Homo sapiens: one gene and its partners. The protein of the gene in region 4 interacts with the protein of the main gene of each other region in a pairwise test. Each region holds a gene or a part of one and is shown on either strand. Other genes may lie near its edges. The genes, in order: FAM124B, AP1M1, PECAM1 and PAK5.

Region 1 (4,806 bases), on a different chromosome or scaffold from region 4:
TCATGTTCACAGCAAAATATCCTGTGGCTTCTGTCCTTAAGAAATGGTCAGAAGCTCCTTAAGGCCTATTGAATAAAGTAATAAGAGACTACAAGATGAGATGTCTTTCCATTTGGTTAATTTTGTTGTCATCACTTTGACTTGTTAATAAAACATGAATCATATTCCATATTAAATGATTTCTAAATTATTCACCTTCTTGCTCACATAAGGTAGACAGGCACTGTTTCTGTTAGTTGCCTATTATAAAACCCCATAATTTCCAAGGCATCTAAAATTTCTTTCAGTTTTAGCGACTCTCTAGTACTTAAAATCAACCTCATGGTCAAACAAAAATGTAATGTGTGTGTGCAGCAAGGGACATGATTTTAATCATTCCTGTCTTTAAGGCTGACTGACATTTTTGCTATGGAACCACAGTTTAAACAACTTAGTTACTTTGGAAAGTTGAGTCACATTTGGGGAGTGTAGAAGAGTTTTTTGGATAAAGAGAAACTCCATGAATTGTATGAAAAGAGCCCTCTTCCTCTCTGGATTGTCCCAGGAGCCTGGCCACTTCTCAGGTGTGAATGGGGCATCAGCCCCTCACTCTTTTGTTTTTGAGACAGAGTCTCTCTCTGTTGCTCAGGCTGGAGTGCAATGGTGTGATCTCAGCTCACTGCAACCTCTGCCTCCCGGGTTCAAGCAATTCTTGTGCCTCAGCTTTCCCAAGTGGCTGAGACTACAGGTGCCTGCCAACATGCCCAGCTAATTTTTGTATTTTTAGTGGAGATGGGGTTTCACTATGTTGCCCAGGCTGGTCTCAAACATCTGGCCTCAAGTGACCACCTGCCTCAGCCTCCCAAAGTGCTGGGATTATAGGCATGAGCTACCACGCCCAGCTGCCTCTCACTCTTGATAGCCCCCTTGGACATCACCTTTGTCCTGACCTCCAAACCTCAGAGACTTCTGCTTCCTCACTCCAAAACACGCTTTGATCTCCTCTTGTTAAGTCAATGAGTCTAAGCTTTTGCAAACAGAGTGAGAGATCGCCTTCTGGAAAATTCTGCTTCTGGTGTCATATAATAAAAGTGCCTGAGGAAAGTGTGTAAAGGCTCAGCCATAATCCAAAGACAACACATTGTAGCTCCTAGATAGCTTTTGATTCTTTGAATGGAGTGAATTTTTCAGGATAGAAAATTCTTGGGCGTGGTGGCTCAGGCCTGTAATACTAGCACTTTGGGAGGCTGAGGCAGGTGGATCACTTGAGGCCAGGAGCTTGAGACCAGCCTGGCCAACATGGTAAATCCCCCTGTCTACTGAAAATACAAAAACTAGCTGGGCATGATGGTGTGCACCCGTAGTCCCAGCTACTCGGGAGGCTGAAGCAGGAGAATCGCTTGAACCAGGGAGGCAGAGGATGCAGTGAGCCGAGATTGTGCCAGTGAACTCCAGCCTAGATGACAGAGCAAGACTCTGTGTATTAGTCTGTTTCACACTGCTGATAAAGACAGGCTGGAGACTGGGAAATTTACAAAAGAAAGAGGTTTAATTGGACTCACAGTTCCACGTGGCTTGGGAAGCCTCACAATCATGCAGAAGGCAAGGAGGAGCAGTCGCATCTTACATGGATGGCGGCAGACAAAGAGAGCTTGTGCAGAAAACTCTTGTTTTTAAAACCATCAGATATTGGGAGACTCATTTACTATGAGTGAATTAATTCACTGTTCACTCATGCCTTAAATAGCACCCCAGTCACCTCTTGAATGCTTTGCTGCTTAAAAATTTCTTCTGCCAGATACCCTAAATCATCTCCCTCAAGTTCAAAGTTCCACAAATCTCTAGGGCAGGGGCAAAATGCCGCCAGTTTCTTTGCTAAAACATAATGAGAGTCACCTTTGTTCCAGTTCCCAATAAGCTCCTCATCTCCATCTAAGACCACCTCAGCCTAGACCTTATTGTTCATATCACTATCAGCATTTTTGTCAAAGTCATTCAACAAATCTCTAGGAAGTTCCAAACTTTCCCACATTTTCCTGTCTTCTGAGCCCTCCAGACTGTTCCAACCTCTGCCTGTTACCCAGTTCCAAAGTCGCTTCCACATTTTCAGGTATCTGTTCAGCAATGCCCCACTCTACTGATACCAATTTACTCTATTAGTTTGTTTTCACGCTGCTGATAAAGACATACCCGAGACTGGGCAATTTACAAAAGAAGAGGTTTAATGAACTCATAGTTCCATGTGGCTGGGGAGGCCTCAAAATCATGGCGGAAGGCAAAGAGGAGCAAGTCACATCTTACATGGATAGCAGTAGGTGGCAAAGAGAGGGCTTGTGCAGAGAACTCTCATCTTTAAAACCATCAGATCTCATGAGACTCATTCTCTATCACGAGAACAGCACAGGAAAGACCCACTCCCATAATTCAATCACCTCCCACTGGGTTCCTCCCACGACACATGGGAATTGTGGCAGTTATAATTCAATATGAAATTTGGGTGAGGACACAGCCAAACCATATCACTCTGTTTCGAAAAGAAGAAAAGAGGAGAGAAGAGAAGAAAAGAAAAGAAAATCCAGCCTAAACTTCCTTGGGTCCTGGGGAGAGGGGCTGGGTAGCGAGTCTGGCTTCTGTAAGTGAGTAGTCCAGGCCTTACACAGTGTGCTCAGGATCCAGATCCCAGCTCTGTTATCACTGTCTTGGCCCTATCCTCAGCCAGGCATCCGCCAGGGTCGCCAGCTGGCTGCTAGCAGCTCTGAGGGTTACATCCTTCATGTGGATTCCAAGTGCCTTGCCCCACCATGGCGCAACAAAATGTCTGGACTTCAGTTAGACCAACTAGGATCAGATTCTCTTCTCTAAATCAATTATTACGTGCAGGAAAGTGAGATTATATGGATCAGTTTAGCCCCGAGGCAAAGGCTCTGGCTTCTACCCCTAGATGCTGTGTGGTGTTCTGTGGGACTTTTAGGGAAGGTTGTGGGTCTCCAGAGAAGATCAGGGCGGAGGAGACAAATACAGAGTGGTCCCAAATGGCTGATGTTCAGCAAAAGTAAGAAAATTATACCTATTAAAGGAAGAACCATAACCACAAACTAACCTCTCTGCAGACCATCCCTCCACATGGCCAGGATGGAGGCGTGTGTGCAGAAGACCTGAGTGTGAGGGGAGCTAGGCCGAGGAGGGGCAGTGAGAAAGCTTTCCTGAGTAGCAATGCCCAGATCTGCGTGAGCTGGGTGGCCCAGGAGGAATTAGCCAGTTGGAGAAGGGAGCAAGGGTGTCTCAAACAGGTGACCGTGGGTGACGATGTTGGTGTGGTGCTGCTTAGCAGGCCATGCTCAGCAAACTTCCTGAGGTTTCATGTGGCTGGAGTGAAGGGAGGGGGAGTCAGGGGAAGAGGATGGGCAGGTGGCCTGAGGCTAGATCAGTGGGAATGTGGTCAGCCACTGGAATGTAAGTACCAAGAGCGGGGGGACTTTTTGGGCTCACTCCTGTGAACCTAGAACCTAAGGTCAGTGTCTGGCACATGGTAGGCAAAAACATCCTTCTACAAATGAACCCTGGCTAAGTAGCTTCTATTCTATCCTTGGTGAAATGAGCAGTCACTGATGAGTCCTATGAATGGAACTGACATGGATTATTTGTGTTATGAGGGTCAAATGAGAGAATGTACATGGTGGTGCTTGGTAAAGTAGAAGCTCCTGGAGACCATGTAACTGCGGTGCAATTGTGATCTGTGCATGTGAGAGGCTGTCAGCTGTCTCTGCCAGCGCGCCCAGTGAGCAATGCGTTTTCCACATGACCTCTTGCCATTGCAGACAGTCTGATGCCTCTCAGAGTCTAGAATGGGTGGTTTTGATGACAGCGATATGAGCATATCAAATAGATGTTCAGTAAATGAATGTATGAGTACATGAGAAGGCAAGTCCATGTTTATTCATTCCTCAGAACTTTGTTGAGTTCTTGCTCTGGGCCAGACATTGTTTTTCCTTTGGCAGTTTTAATTCTGCTGTCTCAATTCTTAGTGGGTGCAAAATGATAGTGGGTTCAACCTTCCCTTTATTCGTTCAAACAGTCCCTCTGCTTTTCTCCCTGTGCTTTTGCCTCTGGTGGTAGTGACAGTGTCAGTGTGTTCTGGGGGAAGGTAGCATGGGTGATGATGTCCGCCTCTTTTTTTAAACCTCCTGCAACTTAAACTGTGCCCTCAGTCAAATTAGCTATTTTGTCAAATCAACCACATGCTGCAGTATCTCTAGTCAACTACTGCTGGCTTTCAGCTTTCCACAGCTGAGACCCGTGTCCAAAGTTGTATTTTTTGTACTTTTTATAGATTTTTTTTCAATTTTTTGCATTATGGCTCTTCTCCCCTGATTCACCTGCTGATGCATTCATCTCCTGCCCTCCTCCTGGCAGGGGCAATCCAAGGGTAGAGTCCATGACTTTGGTGTCAGGCTCTGGCAGACTCTAAATTCCAGGTCACTGAGTTAGCATTGGTGATCTTCTCATTCTGTTTGATGTACAGTAGGCAAACTTTATAAATTAAATGATAAACCTCCCTCAAAGCCACTTGAAACGCTCAGCAAGGTCTATATTTCATGGCCCTGTGGGAGATGTGACAGCCATGATCTTGTTAGCCTTTGGGTGGGTGTTCTGTGTGGTATCACACTGCCCTGGTGGTCTAATGAGGAGCTGGACCCTCCTGCAAGCGCCTGCAGTACCAGGCAGCCTGCAGGAAATGCACTGTAGAGCTGCAGCCACCCACCTTGTGTGTAGGGAAGGAGAAGGTGAAATTGACTGAGGATGTCAAGTAACATGGAGGAAGTGTGA
Region 2 (4,806 bases), on a different chromosome or scaffold from region 4:
GGCTCCTGGAGCCCCGGCCAGTGAGGGTCCCGAGCTCCTGAGCCTCCGCTTGCCCACTGAGCACCTCCTGCCACACACGCTGTTTCTGGTGCTGGACACGGCAGCGCGCAGCCCCACGTGGCTTCCCCCAGCAGGGAGAGAGAGAGAGAGACAAGCAGGCAGACGCAGGGAAGCTGTTGTGCACCATGGGATCAGGGAGCCGCTTGCGAGATGAGGACAGGACAGCACGAGGAGGTGAGGCTGGGGAAGGTGACAGAACCGGAGCCCTTGGGGCCATGTCCGGTTCCCTGCCCCTCCCAGGGCTGTCATTTGCTTGGCACCTCAGTTTTCCCAATTCCCTCAGAGGCGGCAAGCTGGTGAGGGGCTTTTGTTTGTCTACCCAGTGCTTTTTGGACATCATGCATAAGACTGCACAGACTCTCCTGCCACTCTGCAGACAGGAAATGCAGGCCCTGCACATGTTAGCCTGGCTGGAGCCAGCATCTGGGCCCAGGTATCCAAGTCGGTGGCCTTTGGCCCACTTGCTGGTGTGAGCATGGCCTCGTGCAGCATAGCAGTGTGCAGTGGTGGCCAGGGCTGCAGCCCCAGCGATTCTTCTGCCAGTCACTCTGTGCCCTCAGCACGGGGCCTCTGATCTGTGCCTGTTTCCTCACCTCTAAAATGGATGCAAGAAGAGATGCTCCAGCATCTTGGCTCACGCAGGACAGGCTAGGGGGTGCAGGACCGTCGCCCCGGTGTGGATTTTCAGTTGCACTTTCAGATGCATCTCGGCATGCGCAGTGGGTTACAGCCCCTCAGGTCATCTCCCCACAGTCCCTGCCCCAGAGGTTGTCGAGGCGTGTGTGGAGCAATGCCTGGCGCAGTGGAAATGCTGTCAGTGTTAGCCACTGTGACTGGATTTAAGTTGATTATTTTGGATCAAGTGTTATCACACTTCAGGGTGGCCCTGAGAAGCAAGAAGGGGTCAGGACTCAGGAAGCACCATCTCTCATAAGCCCTGGGGGGTGAGGGGCCAGTGGCCTCCCTGGGAGGCCAAGAGGAGAAACAGCTTTCAAGAAAAGCAAGTCTGGCCTGGTTCAAGAGACCCCAGCCCAGCCCAGCCCATCGGCTGAGCAGGGACCACAGGGTCCTGGCCCAGGTCCAGCCGAGCTCATGGACTCTCAAAGCTGACTCAGCGTGGGGACCAGCTGCCGGGCCGGCCCGGAGCATTCAGGGGGCTCCTGGGAGGGAGGGACTGGTACCTGATAGAGAACCCTCAGAGGGGGCTCCAGGCACGCATCATCAGGTCCCAGTGTGGCCTGAGGCCTAGAGGGCAGGACCCACAGTGTCCACCTCATGTCCACAGGGCCTCGGCATGAAGGCTGGAGGGGTGAGCCTGGGGACCCTCAGCCAGGCGTGGGTTGGTGTGGGTTAGGGGTAGACCTTAGCCACAGCTGGGACTCTCCCAGCTCAGGGGATGCCCAGGAGAGGGATGGGCTTGGAGGTGAGAAGGGCGTTGAGAGTGGGGTGGCCAGAGGGTCACATGATGTGGTAGGAGGCAGTGGCTGGTGAGTTGGGGACCTCCCCTCACGCCCACACCGCCACCCCCAGGTCAGCGCCAACGGCAATGTCCTGCGCAGCGAGATCGTGGGCTCCATCAAGATGCGAGTCTTCCTCTCGGGCATGCCCGAGCTGCGCCTGGGCCTCAACGACAAGGTCCTCTTTGACAACACGGGCCGTGAGTACCCTTGCCAAGGGCCCTGCCCATGAGGATGGCCTCACCAGGCACACACATTACAGCCTAGGGCAGGGTTGGGCCAGGCGGAGGAACGAGCTGGTTTCAAGCACTTGGTTGAGCAGCACTTCACACTGCTTGAGACAGCTGTGTAGAGTATTCATCCTTCCCTGGACATAGAAGGTGCAGGGGAGTGAAGATCCTCCAGTCCAGCTGGGAGGCCCCCGTCACCCGGCCTCACACGCCAGGTCCTGCACCCTGCCCTGCTCTGCCTGGGGCACTGGGGCCTAGGCTAAGGCCTTGCTCTCTCCCTCCCAGGCCAGGTTTCTCCCCTCACCTTGGGCCCTAGGTGTGGGCCGTGTGAAGGCCACGCATGGTGATTCTCGCTCCCGCCGCCTGGCCTCTAACACTTCCCACAGCAGGGCGGGGGCAGAGGGGCCCAGGGCCTGGTTTTGTGAACTGTGCCTCCCACTCAGCTGTCACAGGCCACTGGAAGAGGGTGCAGTGGCTGGGCATGCCCCCGTTCCTAGCCCGGTGAGGGCTTCTCGGGCATCAGTCTATCAGGGCAGCTCCCCGCCTGGGGCTGGGCAGGGCCCCACCCACATAGCCCTCAGTGAGGTGGCAAACCAAGGTAGGACCCAGGACCCCGTGGATGCCAGGGCCTGAGCCCTTGGGGAGCCCCGAGCCATCCCCCAGCCAAGTCCACTGATCAATCATTCAGTGAACGTGTCCTGAGCAGGTCCCCTGGCTGGGCCCTGGGATGGCCGCTGGGGACTCAGCATGAACCAGACCCACCAGCCCTGCCCCTGGGGACCCCAGGGGTGTGAGGAGTGATGGGGCAGTTGTCTTGGGACCCAGCCCCCTTGGTGTTTGTGGCCCAGGCTGCTCTCAGTGCGTGGACTGGGGGCCCTGCTCTGCCGGGGTGGGTTGCAGGTGGTAGGAGTACTGCTGAGATAGTGACCCGGAGGGCCCAGATCTGTCCTACCCTCACCCCTGACCCCAGGCGGCAAAAGCAAATCCGTGGAGCTGGAGGATGTGAAGTTCCACCAGTGTGTGCGGCTATCACGCTTCGAGAATGACCGCACCATCTCCTTCATCCCACCCGACGGCGAGTTCGAGCTCATGTCCTACCGTCTCAACACCCACGTGAGTGCGCCACCCTGGGGCTGGGCTGTCGGCAGACTCCTCCTCCCCTTCACCTCCAGGAGGTGAAGCCCAGGCAGGCGCCAGGGCCAGCCCCACCCCACGCTCCATGAGCTGCCTGGCTCTGCAGAGATGGAGTCTGAGGACTTGGGACTCCGAGCTTTCTGAGGGGCACAGACCCCTTTGGCCACCACCACCCCTTTCCCAGGCAGCCCCCAGAGCAGGCCCTGGTCATGTTTTCTGCATTTGCCCCAAGGCCTCCCCGGTAGCTCCCGGCTACCTCGGCCTGTCTGCCCTGGCCCTCCCTGACGCTGGCTGTACGCTCCCTGCAGGGCTCTGGGCCCACACCTGGGCAGATGGTCCCTTGCCCTGGGCCTTGGTTTCCCCTCTGAAATGGGCCTTTGTCAAACAAGGCCAGGTGTGAGCACCCTCTTTGCCCTCCTTGGCAGGTCAAGCCTTTGATATGGATCGAGTCGGTGATCGAGAAGCACTCCCACAGCCGCATCGAGTACATGATCAAGGTGCGTGGGCCGAGGCCACCCACTGAGGGCCTTCTGGTGTCTCTGGCCCGTCCCAGGAGCCTAACCGAGGGCTGGGGGTGCCGTAGGGCTGCCATCCGTGCACCCTCACTGTGGCCTCAGATGCAGGAGTGACCTGACACTGAGGGGACACCGCCTGGGGCCTGCTCCTAGATGGTGCCACTTGTGGGGAGGGGCCTGTAGCCAGGCATCCAGGACACTCCCAGAGGTGTTGCCCCCAGGTGGAGCACCTCTGCCCCTCAGCGACCCTGTCCAGCGCAGCCTGGCCCTGGGACATAGACATTGTCCTAGGAGGGCAGGGCAGAGGGAGGGATGAGGAGCCTTGGAAGCTGAGCAGACAGGAGGATGAAGATGAAACTCCTGAAATTAGGTCTTGGGAGAGTCTCGAGGGCAGGAGAAGGGGTGGGTAGTGCCTGGAGAAGTGGGGCCAGGGGCGGGGCTAGGGAGGATCCCCCGGGCCAGGCTGAGGGGCATGTGTCCTGGAGAGGCTGGCCAGCTCACCTTGGCCTCCATAACCCCGGGCCGCATTGGCCTGGCCTGCAGGCCAAAAGCCAGTTCAAGCGGCGGTCAACAGCCAACAACGTGGAGATCCACATTCCCGTGCCCAATGATGCCGACTCACCCAAGTTCAAGACGACGGTGGGGAGCGTTAAGTGGGTCCCCGAGAACAGCGAGATCGTGTGGTCCATCAAGTCCTTCCCGGTGAGCACTCTGTCCAGACATCCACGTGCCCCCTGCGCCTGTCTCTGCAAGGCAGCCTGGGTGCCTCAGGACCCCCTGCACCTCAAGATGGGGTGACAGTGGCCACTGTGTCTTCCACACCTGGGGCTTCTGAAAGGGTGGACGGAGAGCTGAGGACTGGAGTGGGAGGAAGCAGAGGCTGACTCGGCCCCTGGGCCCCTTTCTGCCTTCCTCTTGTTTGTGAACCAGCCTCTGTCTTCACCTCAGGGCAGTGCCCTCTCCCTCCCTCTCTGTGATGCCCCTGAGTACTGATGTGAGATGGGGCTCCTGTCCATGCAGGCCCTGAAGGAGCCCCGTCCACACTGGCAGGTCCAAGGCCCTTTCTGTGCAGGCTCAGCCTTGCCTGCCATCAAGGGGAACGGCTGCCTGTAGGCCGGAGCAGCACAGCCTCCAGAGCTCCGCACCAGCCGCCCATGTCCTGGGCCAGCTCTGCATCGGCGTGGCTTCCCTGACAACATGTTAAGGATTCTGAGGAGCTGAGTCTGGGCTTGCCGGGTGTACACAGTGCACAGAGAGGCTAGGCCCAGGCATGGCTCTGGAGCTGAGCCGGGTGGCACTGACCTGCTCCACCAGGGGGGCTCAGGGCAGGCGCTGCTTTCCATGTTCTCCCCTCTCTCTCCATCTGCATCCCAGGGGGACTTGGGGACAGCCCCAGCTGAGTTAAGCTGG
Region 3 (4,806 bases), on a different chromosome or scaffold from region 4:
ACTTAACTCTCCACCCATCACCCTCTCATTCATCTGCCTGGCATTTTCCTTACCTGAATACGTAAGCACTAGACATATTCCCAATAGGCCAGGCCCTTCCTTCCTTCCTTCCTTCCTTTCTTTCTTTGATGGAGTCTCACTCTGTCACCCAGTCTGGAGTGCAGTGGTGTGATCTCGGCTCACTGCAACCTCTGCCTCCCAGGTTCAAGCGATTCTCCTGCCTCAGCCTCCCAAGTAATTGGGATTACAGGTGTGTGCCACCACACCTGGCTAATTTTGTATTTTTAGTAGAGATGGGGTTTCACTGTGTTGGTCAGGCTGGTCTCGAACTCCTGACCTCAAGTGATCCACCTGCCTTGGCCTCCCAAAATGCTTCTTCATCTCGTCTCATAAATTAAAATTTCTTCTTCAAGACTCAACTCAATGATGTCTTCTCTTTCCAAAACAAAATGGGTCTACCCCAGGGTGCCAGTCAGTACAGCTCTGATGCTCTCTCTACATTCAATGGTATTTGTGTGTATAAAGGCCACAGCGGTGTGTTAAGACACCTCGTTCTGCAGTCACTCTGCCTGGGTTTCAATCTGGGCAAGTCCCTTAACAGCTCTAAACTTCAAAATCCTCACCAGTAAAAGGAAGATAACAACGATACCCATTTCAGGCAATTATTGAGAGGGTTAAAAGTGTCATGTGGGTAGAGTGCTTAGCAAAATTTCCAGCACCTAGTGAGTTCCTAATAAATAGAAATGTATTTATTTATTTTGAGACAGAGTCTTCCTCTGTCACCCAGGCTAAAGAGCAATGGCGCGACCTTGGCTCACTGCAACCTCTGTCTCCTGGGTTCAAGCGATTCTCCTGTCTCAGCCTCCCAAGCAACTGGGATTACAGGCACGCGCCACTGTGCCTGGCTAATTTTTTGTATTTTTAGTAAGGATGGGGTTTTACCATGTTGGCCAGCCTGGTCTCGAACTCCTAACTTCAAGTGATTTACCCACCTTGGCCTCCCAGAGTGTCAGGATTACAGGTGTGAGCCACCATGCCCGGTCCACAAATATTCTATTTCACTCAGTATTGCCATCCATTCTTACACATCTGTCTGCTCTTCTGGATAGTGAAATTGTAAAGACAGAGATGGTGTTTGGTTTATTCTTATATCTTGAACAATGAATGTGGCTCATAGTAGGCATTCAGTCAATGTTCATGGAATAAATTAAAGTCAGTCCTAGCCTGTGGCTGCATTCAATAAAGGGTAACAACAATCACAGTGACACTGACAAATACTGGCTACCTTTCCCCTCTAAGCATCATCTGTTGGGAATCTGATTGTGTCCTCTTCCCAATAGGATTATAAACCATTGAAAACACCAAGTACATCTTGACCATATTTTATTTTTTAAATTTATTTATTTATTTATTTATTTATTTATTTATTTTTAGACAGAGTCTCACTCTGTTGCCCAGGCTGGAGGGCAGTGGCACGATCTCAGCTCACTGCAACCTCTGCCTTCGGGGTTCAAGCAATTCTCCTGCCTCAGCCTCCCAAGTAGCTGGGATTACAGGTGCCTGCCACCATGCCCGGCTAATTTTTTGTATTTTTAATAGAGATGGGGTTTCGCCATGTTGGCCAGGCTGGTCTCAAACTCCTGACCTCAGGTGATCCACCTGCCTCAGCCTCCCAAAGTGTTGAGATTACAGATGTGAGCCACCTCGCGTGGCCTTAGTGGTGATTTTGGTGGACCCATCACCCGAGCAGTGTACACTGTACCCAGTGTGTAGTCTTTTATCCCTCGCTCCCTCCCACTCTTTCCCCTGAGTCCCCAAAGTCCACTGTATCATTCTTATGCCTTTGTTTCCTCATAGCTTAGCTCCCATTGAGCATATTTTATATTTTTTCCTTTCTTTTCTTCTCTTTTTTGAGACAGGGTCTCTGTTGCCCAGGCTGGAGTGCAGTGGTGGGATCACTGCTCACTGCCGCCTCAACCTCCTCGGCTCAGGTGATTCTCCCACCTCGGCCTCCCAAGTAGCTGGGACTACCAGTGCACACCACTAACTACCCCTGGCTAATTTTTAATTTTTTTTTTTGTAGAGATAGCATTTCACCGTGTTGCCCAGGCTGGTCTCCAACTCCTGGGCTCAAGAGATCCACCCACCTCAGCCTCCAGATTTTATATATTTCAAAGTGCCTAGTACTGTGCTGGGCACATACCTGTTCATTTATTACCTGGTAGGTCGCACTGGGTGTTCAGAGAACAAAAAAGAGCCCTCTCATGGGTCAACTACAGTCACTCAGCGGAGGGAGGCTTGTGTCTCTCAATCAGGCTGATACTGACAGACTTTCTCTTCAATCAGGCTGATACTGACAGACTTTCTCTTTCCCCGTAGGAGTGCCCAGTCCCAGGGTGACACTGGACAAGAAAGAGGCCATCCAAGGTGGGATCGTGAGGGTCAACTGTTCTGTCCCAGAGGAAAAGGCCCCAATACACTTCACAATTGAAAAACTTGAACTAAATGAAAAAATGGTCAAGCTGAAAAGAGAGAAGAATTCTCGAGACCAGAATTTTGTGATACTGGAATTCCCCGTTGAGGAACAGGACCGCGTTTTATCCTTCCGATGTCAAGCTAGGATCATTTCTGGGATCCATATGCAGACCTCAGAATCTACCAAGAGTGAACTGGTCACCGTGACGGGTCAGCATCCTGCTCCCTTCCTCATCGTTCTTTGTGGTTTCTGGTTTGGTATGGGGAGAAAGAACCCAGAACTGGGAAGGGGCTGCTGTTCTCAGGACTTAAGACCTGTTCTTAATCATTTTAAGCCAGTATTTTTCAAGCTTTTTTGACTGTTATACAGTTAAATTGCATACAATTTTTCAGACAAGAGTTTCACCAACAACACTTTACTCTTAATATATATGATGCTTTTTGTTTGTTTGGCTTGGTTTTTGGGGTTTTTTTTTTGAGACAGAGTCTCGCTCTGTCGCCCAAGCTGGAGTGCAGTGGTGCAATCTTGGCTCAGTGCAGCCTCTGCCTCCCGGGTTCAAGCAATTCTTATGCCTCAGCCTCTGGAGTAGCTGGGATTACAGGCATGCAGCACCACACCTGACTAATTTTTGTATCTTTAGTAGAGATGGGGTTTCGTCATGTTGGCCAGGCTGGTCTCAAACTCCTGATGTCAGGCGATCCACCCGCCTTGGCCTCCCATAGTGCTGGGATTACAGGCGTGAGCCACCACCCCAACCTTGTGTGTGTTTTTGAGACAGGGTCTTGCTCTGTTGCCTGAGCTGGAGTGCAGTGGCATGATTTCAGCTCACTGCAACCTCCGCCTCCCAGGTTCAAGCGATTCTCCTGCCTCAGCCTCCTGGGTAGCTGGGATTACAGGGGCATGCCACCATGCCTGGCTAAATTTGTATTTTTAGTATAGACAGGGTTTTACCATGTTGGCCAGGCTGGTCTCAAACTCCTAACCTCAGATGATCTACTCACCTCGGCCTCCTAAAGTGCTAGGATTACAGGCGTGAGCCACCGTGCCCAGCCTATTTCAGTCTTTAAACACTGGCCATGACACACTACACTGATGCATTATGTGATCTGTAGTTTGGAAGCCACTGCTTTAAGCCATCGAGGGTCAGACACCAGGAAGTTGGGTTTGGAGGGGATCGGGAGGAAAGAGGGGCCAGGTCCTCAGCCTTGGCCTCCTGTTGTTCAACGTAGATTTGCGTTGGACAAACAGCAAACAAATGAGGTGGCCTGGGAAATGCTCCCAGGAGAGAAGGAGGCAACAGCAGAGGGAAGCTGGGGAGTGTCCAGGACATACAGGGCTCTAGGACAGGTAGTCAGCCACTCCCAGGACCCGGTCTCATTTGCCAAGCCGGGAGAAGTCAGGGGAAGGCACACCCATGTAGATATTTGCAAATATTTCCAAAATAGGAAACTTACATTTTGTCATAAATGGTCCCCTTCTTTTGGCATCCCACTTTATCCTGCCCATTGTGTGTATGTGTGTCTGTATGTTCTATTATCTGATTATAAAATCATGTGTGCTCTGGGTAGAATTTTCAGACAAAAGAGCAGGATATAAAGTATGTATATAAAGTGACAATCATTTATAATGCCTCTACTTAGAGAAAACCACACATGATCCTCTAGACTTTTTCTACATATATTTATATATCATATACACACCCAGCCACACACACACACACACACACACACACAGAAAAAACATCTTTTGTTTTTACAAAAGATGGGGACCTATCACACTATTTTACAGCTTTTTAAAAACCAGACAAAATCTTATGGACTTTTGTCCATATGAAGAAATATAGATCTATCTCATTTTAGAACTCAGAACTTGACTGTAGGGATGGGCCATCTCTGCAACCCTCAAACTCCTGGGCTTGAGTGATTTACCTCATCTTCTGCTGATGGATATTTAGGTATTTTTCTCAGTGTTTGCTATTACAACAATCCTGCAGTATAGATATTTGTACTTGTAACTTGTGTACTTTGGCAACTATTTTACTATTATTATTTATGTGGTTAATTCTTAGTAGTCAAATTGTTGAATCAGATGTTTTGTGCATTTTCTTTTTTTTTTATTTATTTATTTATTTATTTATTTATTTATTTGAGACAGAGTTTCACTCTTGTTGCCCAGGCTCGAGTACAGTGGCGCAATCTCAGCTCACCGCAACCTCCGCCTCCCGGGTTCAAGCGATTCTCCTGCCTCAGCCTCCCGAGTAGTTGGGATTAGGCATGTGCCACCACGCCTGGCTAATTTTGTATTTTTAGTTGAGATGGGGTTTCTCCATG
Region 4 (4,806 bases):
ACTTTGGGAGGCCAAGGCGGGTGGATCACGAGGTCAGGAGTTTGAGACCAGCCTGACCAACATGGTGAAACCCTGTCTCTACTAAAAATACAAAAACTAGCCAGGCGTGGTGGTGAGTGCCTGTAATCCCAGCTACTGGGGAGGCTGAGGCAGGAGAATTACTTGAACCCGGGAGGCGGAGGTTGTAGTGAGCCAAGATCATGCCACTACACTCCAGCTTGGGTGACAGAGCAAGACTCTTTCTCAAAAAATAAAATAAAATAAAATAAAATAAGTGGTAAACAGGGAAGATACAACTGAAATGAAATAGGAAGCTGCTGAAAGAGACTTGATATTTTTAAGGCTGAGTTATAGCTGTTTCATCTTTCCTCTGCCAAGGCTGCTCATCTTTTACTCTTCACAGTTATTGTTTCTCCCAAGTTAATCTGTGGGGTGAGGATGGATGTTGTTCCTCTGAGGAAAGGTCCCAGGTTATATACATGATTCTTTCTTTCTCTAAGGGAGGCTCCAACAGAGCATCCCCTACTTTGGCAATCAATCCATCAATTTATGCACCACCCTCAACAATGACTACATTCCATATAATGAATTCCACACTATGGAATAAAAAAGGAATAGGCAAAAAAAAGACTAGGATATTAGTTTATGAACACTGACTATATTATGCTCAGTGAAAGAAGTCAAGCTGAAAGGCTCCAGACTGTATGATTCCATCCATATGATATTCTGGAATAGACAAAACAATAAGGACAGAAAACAGATCAGTGATATCAAGGGTTTGGGGAGAGGGTAATGTTTGACTAGAGGAAACTCAGGAGATATTTTTGCAGCTGGTGGCACTAATTTGTATGGCACTCTAACAGTGAATACATGATGCTTTGCACTTGTCAATACCCATAGAGCTTTGCAGCACAAAGAGTTAATTAATGTACGTAGTTTCAAAAAACAACAAAAAATAAACCAGAAGATCAGAGGATCCTGGGATAGAATGCAGAATGTGACCAAAGAATCCAACAGCTATACATTTATAACATAACCTCATTGAAGGGGGTGCAGGAAAAAAGACACTAACTTAAGGAACTTTGGAAACAGTGCTTTGAATGCAAACTATAAGTGTAAAGGAATTTTAAAGAACTGGACTTAAACATGGTACTTGAGTTGACAAAGTTGTTTCTCATGGTAGAGTGAGTTAATCTGAAACTGCTGAACAGTTATACTAGCACTGAATAGGCAAATGACTGGCAGATGGTGGGGCCCATGTTTTTTACTGTTGCAGAGGAAGTTACAGGTAAGGAAATGGCAAGAATGAATTATGTGGTACTTGATTAGATTCAGAGACATTAATGTGGATTTATGTTTAGGTTAATATAGATACAGATGGATGGATATAATTATAGGTGTGTGAGTGTGTTCATGAGTTAGTCTACAAACATATTATTTCGGAGCTCTGTTTGCTGAGGCCTGGCAATGACACCCAGTAGCAATGAGTATTCCTGGAACCAAATCTTAATTTCTAATACTATTAGCGTTCCTTGGAGAAATGCCTGATTTGGGGGGAAGGGCAGGGAAAATAAAAGATAAACCTGGAGCTTCTTGTAGGGACAGAAAGTAAGGAAGTGCTCAAAAAATAAAAGGAAGAGGGATCATCAAAGGGACACAGCAGCCAGCCTGAGAGAACTCCCAGTGACAAAAGCTGGAACCATTTGAGCAACAAGGCAAATAACAGAGTGTTGGCTTATAACCCAAAGTATAAAATAAATAACCATAAGTCCATCCATCCTTATATATAAATAAATGATTGAATGAGTAGGTAAATGGGAGCAAATAAGCAAGTCTCCTGTGCAGAAGAATTCCAACTACTTTATATAGATACCCTACCCCCACCACACACACACACCCAAGAAGATAAAGCTTAAATCCCTGACCCTTGAGTAGACGCTACACTTACTGACTTGTTCCCAAAGAATACAATATACAGAAAGCTAGGGAAGGGGAGTGTGACTGTGTGTATAAGAAACCTGGAAAATATGACCTCACCCAGGTAGTCAGGGCTAACATCATCATTCCTAAGTCGTGTCGACGATATGTACCCTAAACATTATGCGATGAAATGTGACTTGACTCTCTGATCTTCCTCCTCAAACCAAATAACCTCTGTTTAAACATGGGAAAAACACCAGAAAACCCCAATGGAGGAACATTCTCCAAAATACCTCACCAGTACTCCTCAAAACTGTCAAGGTCATCAAAAAATAAGGAAAATCTGAGAAACTGTCACAGATCAGAGGAAACTCGGAAGATATAACAAATAAATGTAATGAACTATCCTGGATGGGACTCTAGAACCCTAGGAGAAAATTAATGAAATCTATAGGAACATGGAGTTTCCTTAATAGCAATGCAAGATATTAACTCAAGGGGAAACTGGATGAGAAGTCTATGAGAACTCTGTATTCTCTTTGCAACTTCTCTGTTAATCTAAAACTATTCTAGAATAAAAATTTTATTTGAAAGAAAAGGGTATAGTACAAAACTATTAGTCCAGGACTCTTGGAAAGAAAAAAAATAAACCCTTTGTTTCACCATGGATAGATCTATAAAACATCAGCTCCAGGACAACTTTGACTTCTTCCTCCAGTTTGAAATCTTCTATTGTACCATCCAAGATAGTTTTGAACTCCTTGCTACTTGCTCAAAAGTATTTTTCTCCTAAAATCCTGGAAGTCTGAAGTCACAACACTTTGTTCTTTGTTCTTTTATCCACCCCCATCATATTTGCCTGCAAATCCTGTCATTGTCAAGGCACGGCTGACGGGCTTTGTAAGTGGTTTGCGATGTCTTTCAGTTCCTGGTATTCTTGTGTTATTTAGGTTCATTAAAGGGAACAATTTGTCACTAAGATCCAGGTGCAACCATCATTACTAAGCCATCCAAAATTCAGCGGTGATGTTACACAGAAGTGTGGCCATAACAAACAAGCAGTATAGTATAAGTATATATACTTAATAAGAATATCACATTTGATCATAAATCACACAAATAATCTTCAGTCTGTTTCCTAATTACAGTTTCAGGAAGTGCCTGCCTCATCCATAAAATTTCATAACCTCAGTTATTATGTCTTCCATATAAGGGCAAAAAATGTACACCCATTTCTAGTTATGTTAATAGTTGGGTGATAATGCCTTCTGGTTTTGAAAATCATCTGAATAATGAATGTAAAACAGTAATAAATATTATTTTTTATTACCAAACAGTTATAGAGTGTTAAATTATAATTATCAGCTCATCATTAGGTGGTTAGGGCTTATTATTTAGGTAGAAGAAGTAGGGGGAAGGGATTTGCCTGTAAACTGGTAAATAAAACAGTTATATTCTATGTAGTCTCCTACATGGCTTTTTGATGGTTATTTGATGTCTCTGTTGAGATAGGTAAGAAGAAAAATGCAATTTGAGATTGTTTACTATTTGATTTATTTCACCACTGAAGTCAATCAACACATTTTCTTTATCATTTTGTGTTAAGTGTTCCCGGGGTCTTTTTTCTTCTGTAGTTTAATTTGGATGGAGTGGGGGTGGGATGCCACCATCAATTTAAATCCATGAAATATTTTCTTTAAACAATATTCCCTCTATTATTCCCAGACAATCGTTAGAGGAAACAAACCCTGCAAGGAAACCTCCATCAACGGCCTGCTAGAGGATTTTGACAACATCTCGGTGACTCGCTCCAACTCCCTAAGGAAAGAAAGCCCACCCACCCCAGATCAGGGAGCCTCCAGCCACGGTCCAGGCCACGCGGAAGAAAATGGCTTCATCACCTTCTCCCAGTATTCCAGCGAATCCGATACTACTGCTGACTACACGACCGAAAAGTACAGGGAGAAGAGTCTCTATGGAGATGATCTGGATCCGTATTATAGAGGCAGCCACGCAGCCAAGCAAAATGGGCACGTAATGAAAATGAAGCACGGGGAGGCCTACTATTCTGAGGTGAAGCCTTTGAAATCCGATTTTGCCAGATTTTCTGCCGATTATCACTCACATTTGGACTCACTGAGCAAACCAAGTGAATACAGTGACCTCAAGTGGGAGTATCAGAGAGCCTCGAGTAGCTCCCCTCTGGATTATTCATTCCAATTCACACCTTCTAGAACTGCAGGGACCAGCGGGTGCTCCAAGGAGAGCCTGGCGTACAGTGAAAGTGAATGGGGACCCAGCCTGGATGACTATGACAGGAGGCCAAAGTCTTCGTACCTGAATCAGACAAGCCCTCAGCCCACCATGCGGCAGAGGTCCAGGTCAGGCTCGGGACTCCAGGAACCGATGATGCCATTTGGAGCAAGTGCATTTAAAACCCATCCCCAAGGACACTCCTACAACTCCTACACCTACCCTCGCTTGTCCGAGCCCACAATGTGCATTCCAAAGGTAACGTTTGCTACCTCCTTTCCCTCACGTGTGCAAAAACCTCCACAGGGGTGGTGCTGGCACGACCTTTTTATACGATTGGATTGTAAAGTACTTGTTTGCCTTTTAAGGGAAAATCAATATCAAAACCCACCCTATCTCCACTTGTGAGGCCCCAGGGCAGAGGTTTAGGATAAGGCATATATATTCATTAAAATAAAAATCTATCTTTTGGGCCCTCCTACGTGGTTTCTCATTAAAAGGCGAATAAACTTATTGATTTGAAAGATAGAATTCTGATATATGAGTGATAAATATGATGTGACTGTATTTGACTAAGTTCCCTGTTAAGGAGTGGATCAGTCATATACAATCATAGAGCATTAGATCGAGCCA

What was found.
Region 1: the proteins of PAK5 (region 4) and FAM124B interact in a two-hybrid assay, tested with the Homo sapiens proteins (one large-scale study listed by IntAct).
Region 2: the proteins of PAK5 (region 4) and AP1M1 interact in a two-hybrid assay, tested with the Homo sapiens proteins (one large-scale study listed by IntAct).
Region 3: the proteins of PAK5 (region 4) and PECAM1 interact in binary tests that used the Homo sapiens proteins (3 or more experiments, as listed by UniProt).

What each region holds. Positions count from the first base shown.
Region 1 is NC_000002.12:224,394,772-224,399,577, reverse strand, and holds part of FAM124B (protein FAM124B), read left to right. Parts: intron 1-4,806.
Region 2 is NC_000019.10:16,224,831-16,229,636, forward strand, and holds part of AP1M1 (AP-1 complex subunit mu-1), read left to right. Parts: intron 1-1,590; coding exon 1,591-1,717; intron 1,718-2,717; coding exon 2,718-2,860; intron 2,861-3,306; coding exon 3,307-3,378; intron 3,379-3,939; coding exon 3,940-4,098; intron 4,099-4,806. UniProt on the Homo sapiens protein: Subunit of clathrin-associated adaptor protein complex 1 that plays a role in protein sorting in the trans-Golgi network (TGN) and endosomes.
Region 3 is NC_000017.11:64,372,930-64,377,735, reverse strand, and holds part of PECAM1 (platelet endothelial cell adhesion molecule precursor), read left to right. Parts: intron 1-2,379; coding exon 2,380-2,685; intron 2,686-4,806. UniProt on the Homo sapiens protein: Cell adhesion molecule which is required for leukocyte transendothelial migration (TEM) under most inflammatory conditions.
Region 4 is NC_000020.11:9,579,770-9,584,575, reverse strand, and holds part of PAK5 (serine/threonine-protein kinase PAK 5), read left to right. Parts: intron 1-3,645; coding exon 3,646-4,431; intron 4,432-4,806.